2 linked regions of the Homo sapiens genome follow. The protein of the gene in region 1 purifies or fractionates together with the protein of each later gene. This does not show direct contact. Each region holds a gene or a part of one and is shown on either strand. Other genes may lie near its edges.

Evidence for each region. The genes of interacting proteins can lie anywhere in the genome.
Region 2: the proteins of MYPN (region 1) and HOMER2 purify together in Homo sapiens (affinity purification with mass spectrometry; one large-scale study listed by BioGRID and IntAct). This does not show direct contact.

Annotation. Positions count from the first base shown.
Region 1 is NC_000010.11:68,206,988-68,210,487, forward strand, and holds part of MYPN (myopalladin), read left to right. Parts: intron 1-3,298; coding exon 3,299-3,468; 3' UTR 3,469-3,500. UniProt on the Homo sapiens protein: Component of the sarcomere that tethers together nebulin (skeletal muscle) and nebulette (cardiac muscle) to alpha-actinin, at the Z lines.
Region 2 is NC_000015.10:82,857,753-82,862,871, forward strand, and holds part of HOMER2 (homer protein homolog 2), read right to left. Parts: intron 1,417-5,119; coding exon of another isoform or gene 1,384-1,416; coding exon 1,277-1,383; intron 1-1,276. UniProt on the Homo sapiens protein: Postsynaptic density scaffolding protein. Binds and cross-links cytoplasmic regions of GRM1, GRM5, ITPR1, DNM3, RYR1, RYR2, SHANK1 and SHANK3.

The DNA.
Region 1 (3,500 bases):
TGGCTCATGCCTGTAATCCCAGCACTTTGGGAGGCCGAGGCAGGCAGATCACCTGAGGTCAGGAGTTCAAGACCAGCCTGGTCAACGTGATGAAACTCCACCTCTACTAAAAATACAAAAATTAGCCAGGCATGGTGGCACACACCTGTAATCCCAGCTACTCGGGCAGCTGAGGCAGAAGAATTGGTTGAACCCAGGAGGCAGAGGTTGCAGTGACCCGAGATTGCACCACTGCACTCCAGCCTGGGCAACAGAACAAGACTCTGCCTCAAAATAAATAAATAAATAAATATAGATGGAATATGTTTCCATAAATGAATCGGGTAGACTATACTATATTTTAGTGCTTAAGAGATAGATTTTAAAAGTCATCTCATCCTGGTTACCTCAGGGCGTTTGTACACTTTTACATTTTACTATGAGCTTCACCTTCTTCCAGAACAGTGCCTCTAATACCAGGAATTACAGCTAGTCCAGAGTTTGCAAGTGCTTGTGCCTCTGAACAGCCAATGTTTTCTTGCCATCTCCTTGCTGCCGCGGGCCACCCACTGGAACTTCCCACTGCCTGTGATGCCCCGGCAGAATTTTTGAAACTCCTTTCATTTATTCCTTTAACAAATGTGTGTTGCTCCAATCCCCCAGACTTCTCTAATAATAGAGAGCTGTCCTAATAATAATAATAATATCAAGTGACATTTGTAGGATGACACATAGGCTCCCCTCTCTCGTCCAAAGGCGGGATTCAAAGTGATACCTTTAAATCTCCCAGACCCATGAGATTATTATAATTGTAGTTACCTTCATTTAACGCTGAAAATTACATGAGAGTAACAACATTGTACAGGCTGTCCCACCACCTGGAACAGCCCACCCCACCCTCCCTGTGAGTTTCCACTCAACCTTTTAGACTGAGCTGGAGCACGTCTTCTGGAAAGCTCCCCCACACTTAAATTGACTGTGCTATATATTTAGTGGAAGACTTGGAGAGGTTAATGACTACAGCTAGGAAGCAAATCTAGGCCTTTGCATTGTTTCTTTGAACCACATTTCCAATTTTCAAAAGGATCTAAGAAATAAATTTTTATTTATGTATTTGTGTGCTCAATCCTACACTTTTTGACATTAACTGGTATTTTTAGAGACATATTTCTTAACCCAAAAGAGTGGTTTTTTTAATCCTTTTTGAAAAAACATAATTGATTAGAAAATCTCACATTCAAAACTGGCTTAACCTAATTAGCCAAAATAATAAATAAGACTAGCTCTGTCTATTACCTGATAGATCTCTCTGCTATTTATGGTTGCATAGCAGGTATTCCCTTTATTTAGTACCATACAGGAGGGGCTTCAGCCTGCCATTTTCTCTAGGTCTAGTTTTTGGAGAAAATATATAATTTTCTGGTTATTTTCCCTTATCCTAGGACTTGAGAAGAGATTAAACTGTGAAGGAAGCAGACACTAATGTACTTTTCCCTGGAGAAATCGGGGGAGAAAGAGGCCAGTAGTGATATGTTCCTTAATCAAGGCTCAGTCCTTAACCATTTCCCAGTCTTCACCAAGTCAGAAGGCAGTAGGTCTCCAACTGAGAAACTCCCCACCAATAAGCCCTGAAACAGATGACTCTTGTGCCAATCCTGCCCTCCAGTGGCTGAGTTTCCAGGTCACTTTGCCCTGGCTCTCCTCTCCCTTTCGTTCCTGTCCTGCTTCCATAGCACCAACAATAGGCAGTGCTGTTTCCTCAGTTGGGACCTAGGATGGAGGACGCGTGGAGGACTTGGGCTGGAATCGATTCCCTTCCCCGCCACCACACTTCCTGCCTTTCTGAGGAATAGGGACACGTAGGGCTCCCCTCTCTTCTCTCACTTCCTAATCCTAGGAAATGCAGTAGTCCAGTTAAGATGTCAGAGAGAGCCGGGAAGGGCTAAGAGATGGAGGGGCTGGGAGGAGAGACTGCGCAAGAGCAGGCCTTACTGAGTGTCTGCTCTTTAGTGAAACCGCTCTAGGTTTGGTCCTCCAAATTTTGATTTTTCTGAATTCACTCAGAGGTATGTAGACTGGAAAACTGAATCAAGATGATGAAATCAACAAAGGACCAATTTCTAAATCAGAATGCTAGAAAGGGGCACAGCTTTCCAGGACCCAGAGCACGAGAGTTCCCCACCTAGGGAACGCCCTTCTGCACACCAAGGTCCCCAGAAACCTAATCAGAAGATTGCCCAGTAATTTCTGAATCAGAAACCACAGCAGAGACTGTGAAGTTTGGACAGATAGCTCGCTCAGGCCATGTTCAAACCTTAAAGTCATATCTGCTAAAAACAGCAGCACTTGGTGAACATAGAAACTCTAATAAATTATCTTTTGTCCCTGAACCATGGTTGATTGTATCTAAATTACTTTTCAGTCTTCTTGCTGTAACAATAGAACCTGATTAGGGAGGTGGGTAGGTAGGTAATGACTGATTAGGGTGATTAGGGTGTGAGGTAGGCACTGCTCAGAGGGGCAAACCCATTGTTTGGCTTTCATTTCTGCAGCTTTCTTGTCTCTATCTTTTGAGGTACCCTCTTTGAGAGCCTACAACCCTCTGTACACTGCCCCTAACAGGTCTTCATGGTAGGACGCTGGAAGGGGATAAGCTTGAGAAATCACCCTCGTCACCCACTCTTCCATCTTATAGAATTCTTTTCTTTTTTTTTTTTTTTTTGTTTGTTTTTTTCTTTTTTTGAGATGGAGTCTCGCTCTGTCGCCCAGGTGAAGTGGCATGCCTTGGTGTGATCTTGGCTCACTGCAACCTCTGCCTCCTGGGTTCAAGTGATTCTCGTGCCTCAGCATCCTGAGTAGCTGGGATTACAGGTGTATGCCACCATGCTCAGCTAATTTTTGTATTTAGTAGAAACTGGGTTTCGCCATGTTGGCCAGCCTGGTCTTGAACTCCTGAGCTCAAGTGATGTGCCCTTTTCAGCCTCCCAAAGTGCTGGGATTACAGGCATAAGCCACCGTGCCTGGCCGCATCTTAGAGGAATTCTAATCTCTCACTTGTAGGATTCTAATCTCTTACTGAATTAGAATCACAGATTTTGGAATTAGGGGCTTAAGATATCACCAGCACAGTTTCCTTATTCCTGGCAGGGAAGGCTTTATTGTTCTCTTCTACAAACGAGGCAATTCAGACCCAGGTATAGTTATATGCTTTACCAAGAATGCTCAGGGAGAATCGGGGTGAGGACAGAATGCACCTCTGCAGCGTACATGCTGGACTGCATTCCTTTGATCATAACACATTATTTGGTCCATTTTCCAGCTCAGTGGCACCATCAGATCCCACCGCCCATGTCTGTCCGGCCCAGTGGCAGTCGCTACGGATCTCTCACCAGTAAAGGACTTGACATATTTTCTGCCTTTTCCTCCATGGAAAGCACGATGGTGTATTCATGCTCTTCTCGGAGTGTAGTGGAGAGTGATGAACTTTAAGAATGTCTAGGTACCTGCTGTGTAAGAGAGCG
Region 2 (5,119 bases), on another chromosome or scaffold:
CTCTGAGGAGGGGGGCTTCTCGGTCTGAGGGAGACTGGGGAAAGCCTGCTGAACCCCTACCCCTGGCCAGCAGAAAGCCCTGAGTGTGCTCATGGGACCGCCCTAAACCACGAAGCTCAGCCCAGCCTGTGGGGAATGCTCCACATTCTCAAGATACAAAATCATAAGCACCGCTCATGCAGTAAATTAAAATCTTACTGATATCATTATGGGGATTGTGTTACATTTATAGATCAATTTAGGAGAAACTGATACTTTTAAAATATCAAGGCTTTTTGCCACTTCCCAACAGAATGGCTATTTATTAAACAATTATTTTATAAACCTTGAAATCATTTTAAAGTTTGCTTCACATAGATCTTGTATATTTAAGTTTATTTCTATGTAGTTTATGGTTCTAGTTCATACTGTAAAGGATCTCTTCTTCAAATATATATTCCACATGACTTTTTTGTATATAGGTGACTGAGTTTTGTGTGATTTCATATTTTAATAGTTTATGTTTTCACATGCGTTTCTCAGATGTTCAAAATTCTTTTTTTTTTCTTTTTTTTGAGACAAGAGTCTCACTCTGTCATCCAAGCTGGAGTGTGGTGGTGCAATCTCAGCTCACTGCAGCCTCTGCCACCTCCCAGGCTCAAGCAATCCTCCCAACTGAGCCACCAGAGTAGCTGGGACTACAGGTAAACACCACCATAGCTGGCTAGTTTTTAAAATATTTTTTCTAGAGACAGGATTTCATCATGTTACCCAGGCTGGTCTCAAACTCCTAGGCTCAAGTGATCCGCCTGCCTTGGCCTTCCAAAATGTTGGGATTACAGGCAGGAGCCACCATGCTTGGCCAAGAGTCAATGTTATAGATAAATAAATGATAAATTTGCCTCCTCAAAAACAAAACAAAGCACAAGCACAGGGGTGCATTCACACACACACACACACCCTCTCTCCACACATGTACACTCAATCACACACACTCTGACACTACCACACTCATGCACATTTGCCCTCTCTCCACACATTTACATACTCACAATATCTCTCTCTCACACACACACACTCTCTATTTCCCACACACACACAAATGGATGCTGATGTGGTTGGCCAGAGCAGGGCCATGAAGCCAGCTGGCCTTCCTTTCACCAGGAGACAAGAGTGGATGCTCTAAGCAGGTCCCAGTTTTCTCTCCCAATTTCCTGAAACCCTGTCCAGCAAGAAAGGCTTCTAGGGAAGTGCTGAAGGTGGAGAAAATAGAATCTGGACTTTAAAACAGCCTTACCTCTGCGTCAAGGCAATCTTCAGCTTGTCATTCTCAGACTTCAGGTGTGTGTTGGCTGGACCGGCGTGAGAGGCCTTTTCATCGTCCGTCCCGTTGACACTGGATGCCTGAGTAGAAGATGGGGTTTCACGCCCAGATTCCTGGCCAAAGTGAATTATCTTCACACGTTATTGCTTGTCTGCACATCGGCAGCAAGTTAGGCATAATAAGAAACTTTACGAGTGTGGACGAACCAACTCATCCAACCAGAATGCAGCAAAGACTAACAAGTTTTTGTTTTTTTTTTAAACAAACAAACAAACAAAAAAGAAAACAAAACCTAACAAAGACTATCATGACCAAAGAAAAAGGCACTGAAGAGACCATGTGGAGTTCATAAAGTCTGTGTGCTTTACTGACAAGGGAACACCTGGGCCAGTGCTCAGAGCCTTTTTACTTACGCCTTATGGAGAAACCCACCAAACTTGGGAGACCTGGTCTCCTGAAATACCACAGGGCAGAAGCCACAAGGGAGGAGGGACTCTTAGAAACAAGGAATGAAAAAGCACATATTAGAAAAGGAGACAACTTAAATATCTTGGGGCTATGGAGAGTTAGATCAACACATTCATTAAAGAGACAAGAACCAGGTCCTGTTGTTTGCCCACTCCCTTACTACTTAGTGCTGTTATGAATATGTTCAAGTGTTTTCCGTAAGTCATACCACGTAGAGGTGAAATCTCATCTGGTGCTAGATAAGACCTTAGAAAGATCTTATTTAGCCTCAAATAAGTACATGGGCAAAGGAAGAAACTAGAAGAGAATGGTGTATAAATCCAAGTTTCAATTTCTGAATTTCAAAAAAAACACCATAAACAAAATTAAAATGAGACAAAAACCCGGGGGGTGGGGAGGGGATGGGAATATATACAGCAGTACATATGAAAAACAAAATGTCGGCCGGGCGCGGTGGCTCACACCTGTAATCCCAGCACTTTGGGAGGCTGAGGCGGGCAGATCACCTGAGGCCAGGAGTTTGACACCAGCCTGGCCAACATAGTGAAACCCTGTCTCTACTAAAAATACAAAAGTTAGTCAGGCGTGGTGGCATGCACCTGTAATCACAGCTGCTCGGGAGGCTGAGGCAGGACCCGGGAGGCGGAGGTTGCAGTGAGCTGAGATCGTGCCACTGCACTCCAGCCTGGGCAACAAGAGGGAAACTCCAACTCAAAATAAAAAAAAGGAAAAAAATATTAGTATCTTTCCTATATTGACAAGCTCTTAGAGTCCTCATCTTTTAGAGCTACATGCTGAAATATTTACGGATGAAATGAAACATCTGGCATTTGCTTTAAAATATGGTGGGGGGGAGCAAATGAGTAGGTGCACAGATTAAACAATTGGTCATAATTTCCTAACTGTTAAAGCTGACCTATGGGTACAGGAAGGTCCATTATACAATTATGCCTAGATTTGCATATGTTCACATTTTTTTGTGTTTAAAAATAAAGCTCTTGAAAATCAATACAAAAGATTAACACCTTAACTTAAAAAGGGGTAGGTAATTGATATTCACAAAAGAAGAAAAGCATACAATCGATAAACATAAAAATATTTAATCTCACTAGTAAAGAAGTACAAAATGAAGGCCAGGTGTGGTGGCTCACACCTGTAATCCCAGCACTTTGGGAGGCCAAGGTAGGCAGATCACTTGAGGTCAAGAGTTCAAGACCTGCCTGGCCAATATGGTGAAACCCTGTCTCTACTAAAATTACAAAAATTAGCCAGACATGGTGGCAGGCGCCTGTAATCCCAGCTAATGGGGAAGCTGAGGCAGGAGGATCCCTTGAACCTGGGTGGCAGAGGTTGCAGTGAGCCGAGATCACGCCACTGCACTCCAGCCTAGATGACACAGTGAGACTCTGTCTCAAAGATAGAAGATAGAAGATGAGAGAGAGAGAGAGAGAGAGAGAGAAAGCGAAAGAGAAAGGAAAGAAAGAAAAGAAAACAAAAGAAAAAAAGAGAAGAGAAAAGAAAAGAAAGACTTTTCATCTGTCAAATTAACAAAGCTTTGCTGATGAGGGTGTGGTAAGAAAAAGCCTTATTCACTGCAGGTGGGAGTTAGAATGGTGTATTTCTGCAGGCTAAGTTTGTGGTATGCATCACAAGCTTTAAGAACATCCATACCTTTAACCCAATATCTCCATTTCAAGAAGTTATGCAGAAACCACCAAATGCACAAAGACATGCAAGAACATTCATCACAGTGTTATTTATATTAGTGAAATTTTAGAAATGCAGATGTCACAAATTATAGGTTAACCAAATAAGCTGTGATACCAACACTAGAATGCTGTCCAGTCATTAAAACAGTTTTGAAAAGGAATAATCATGACATAAAGTTAAAAGGTATAATATAAAATATATCCTGGAAAAGTATGTTAGAAAGATACACACCAAAACACTAATAAAATATCTTCAAGTGGTGAGAAGGTAGATGATTTTTATTTCCTTCTTTATAGTATGGTATATTTTTCCTTTATACAATAAACATGTATTGCATTTATAGTCACAAAACAGCCCCACATTTTAAGTGTTTTTGTAATTAGGCTGCTTAAAAATCCAACTATTTTGAAAACTTAATCAAAGTGTTCATACTCTAAGAGATTCAGGAAACCAAGTAATTGTGTGATTACTAATTTTAAAAAGCATACAAGGGCCGGGTGCAGTGGCTCACACCTGTAATCCCAGCACTATGGGAGGCCGAGGCAGGCAGATCGCCTGATATCAGAAGCTTGAGATCAGCCTGAGCCAACATGGTGAAACCACATCTCTACTAAAGATACAAAAAAATTAGTCGGGTGTGGTGGCGCATGCTTGTAATCCCAGTTAGAGAGGCTGAGGCAGGAGAATCCCTTGAACTTGGGAGGCAGAGGTTGCAGTGAGCAGAGGTTGCAGTGAGCAGAGGTTGCAGCAAGCTGAGATCGCGCCACTGCACTCCAGCCTGGGCAACAGATTGAGTCTCTGTCTTAAAAACAAAAACAAAAATAGTCTTTCTCTCTCTTTTTTTTTTTTTAATAGAGATGGGGTTTCGCCATATTCCCAGGCTGGTCTCGAACTCATGAGCTCAGGTGATCCACTGGCCTCGGCTTCCCAAAGTGCTGAGATTACAGGTGTGAGCCGCTGTACCCAGCCTTAAAAAAATACATACAATAACCTCTATACCTGGGGAACTATCAGGAAGGATAAATACTGCTAAAGATTAGAAACAAAAAGTCATTCCTAAATAATACATATACGTTAAATAACATCTTATTAGGTATACATGTATTTTTAAGGTTTAAAATACTTAGCTTATGCCTGTAATCCCAGCTACCTGGGAGGCCAAGGCAGGAAGACTACTCGAGCCCAGGGGCAGCACAGCAAGACCCCGTCTCAAATAAATAAACTTTTGAGAGGGGGTAAATATTAAAACAAAATCTTATCTGGAGAAATTCAGATATTAAACTTAAATATATCACTGTACTATGCGGTATTCTGAAAAAGATAGTATATTAGAAACTTTCTAGACCATGGACAATTTCAGATGCTGAATTTCATAGGTCCTCAGAGATTAATCAAGTAATTAGCATACAAAATTAATGGTATCACTGAATCATATTAAAGATTATTTAGAAAGATTCAGGAAAGTTCCTGTCTACCTGAAATCGAATTCACATGCATTTCCATAGGTCCATGTGGGCATATTTTATATGATGAGGCCAGAACAAGGTATTGGAAAGACAACTCAAGGCAGACATAGGTTCTGCCTTTGTGAAACATCCTGAGCCACACCAAATCTCCTGTCCCAAGGGTCGGCCACAG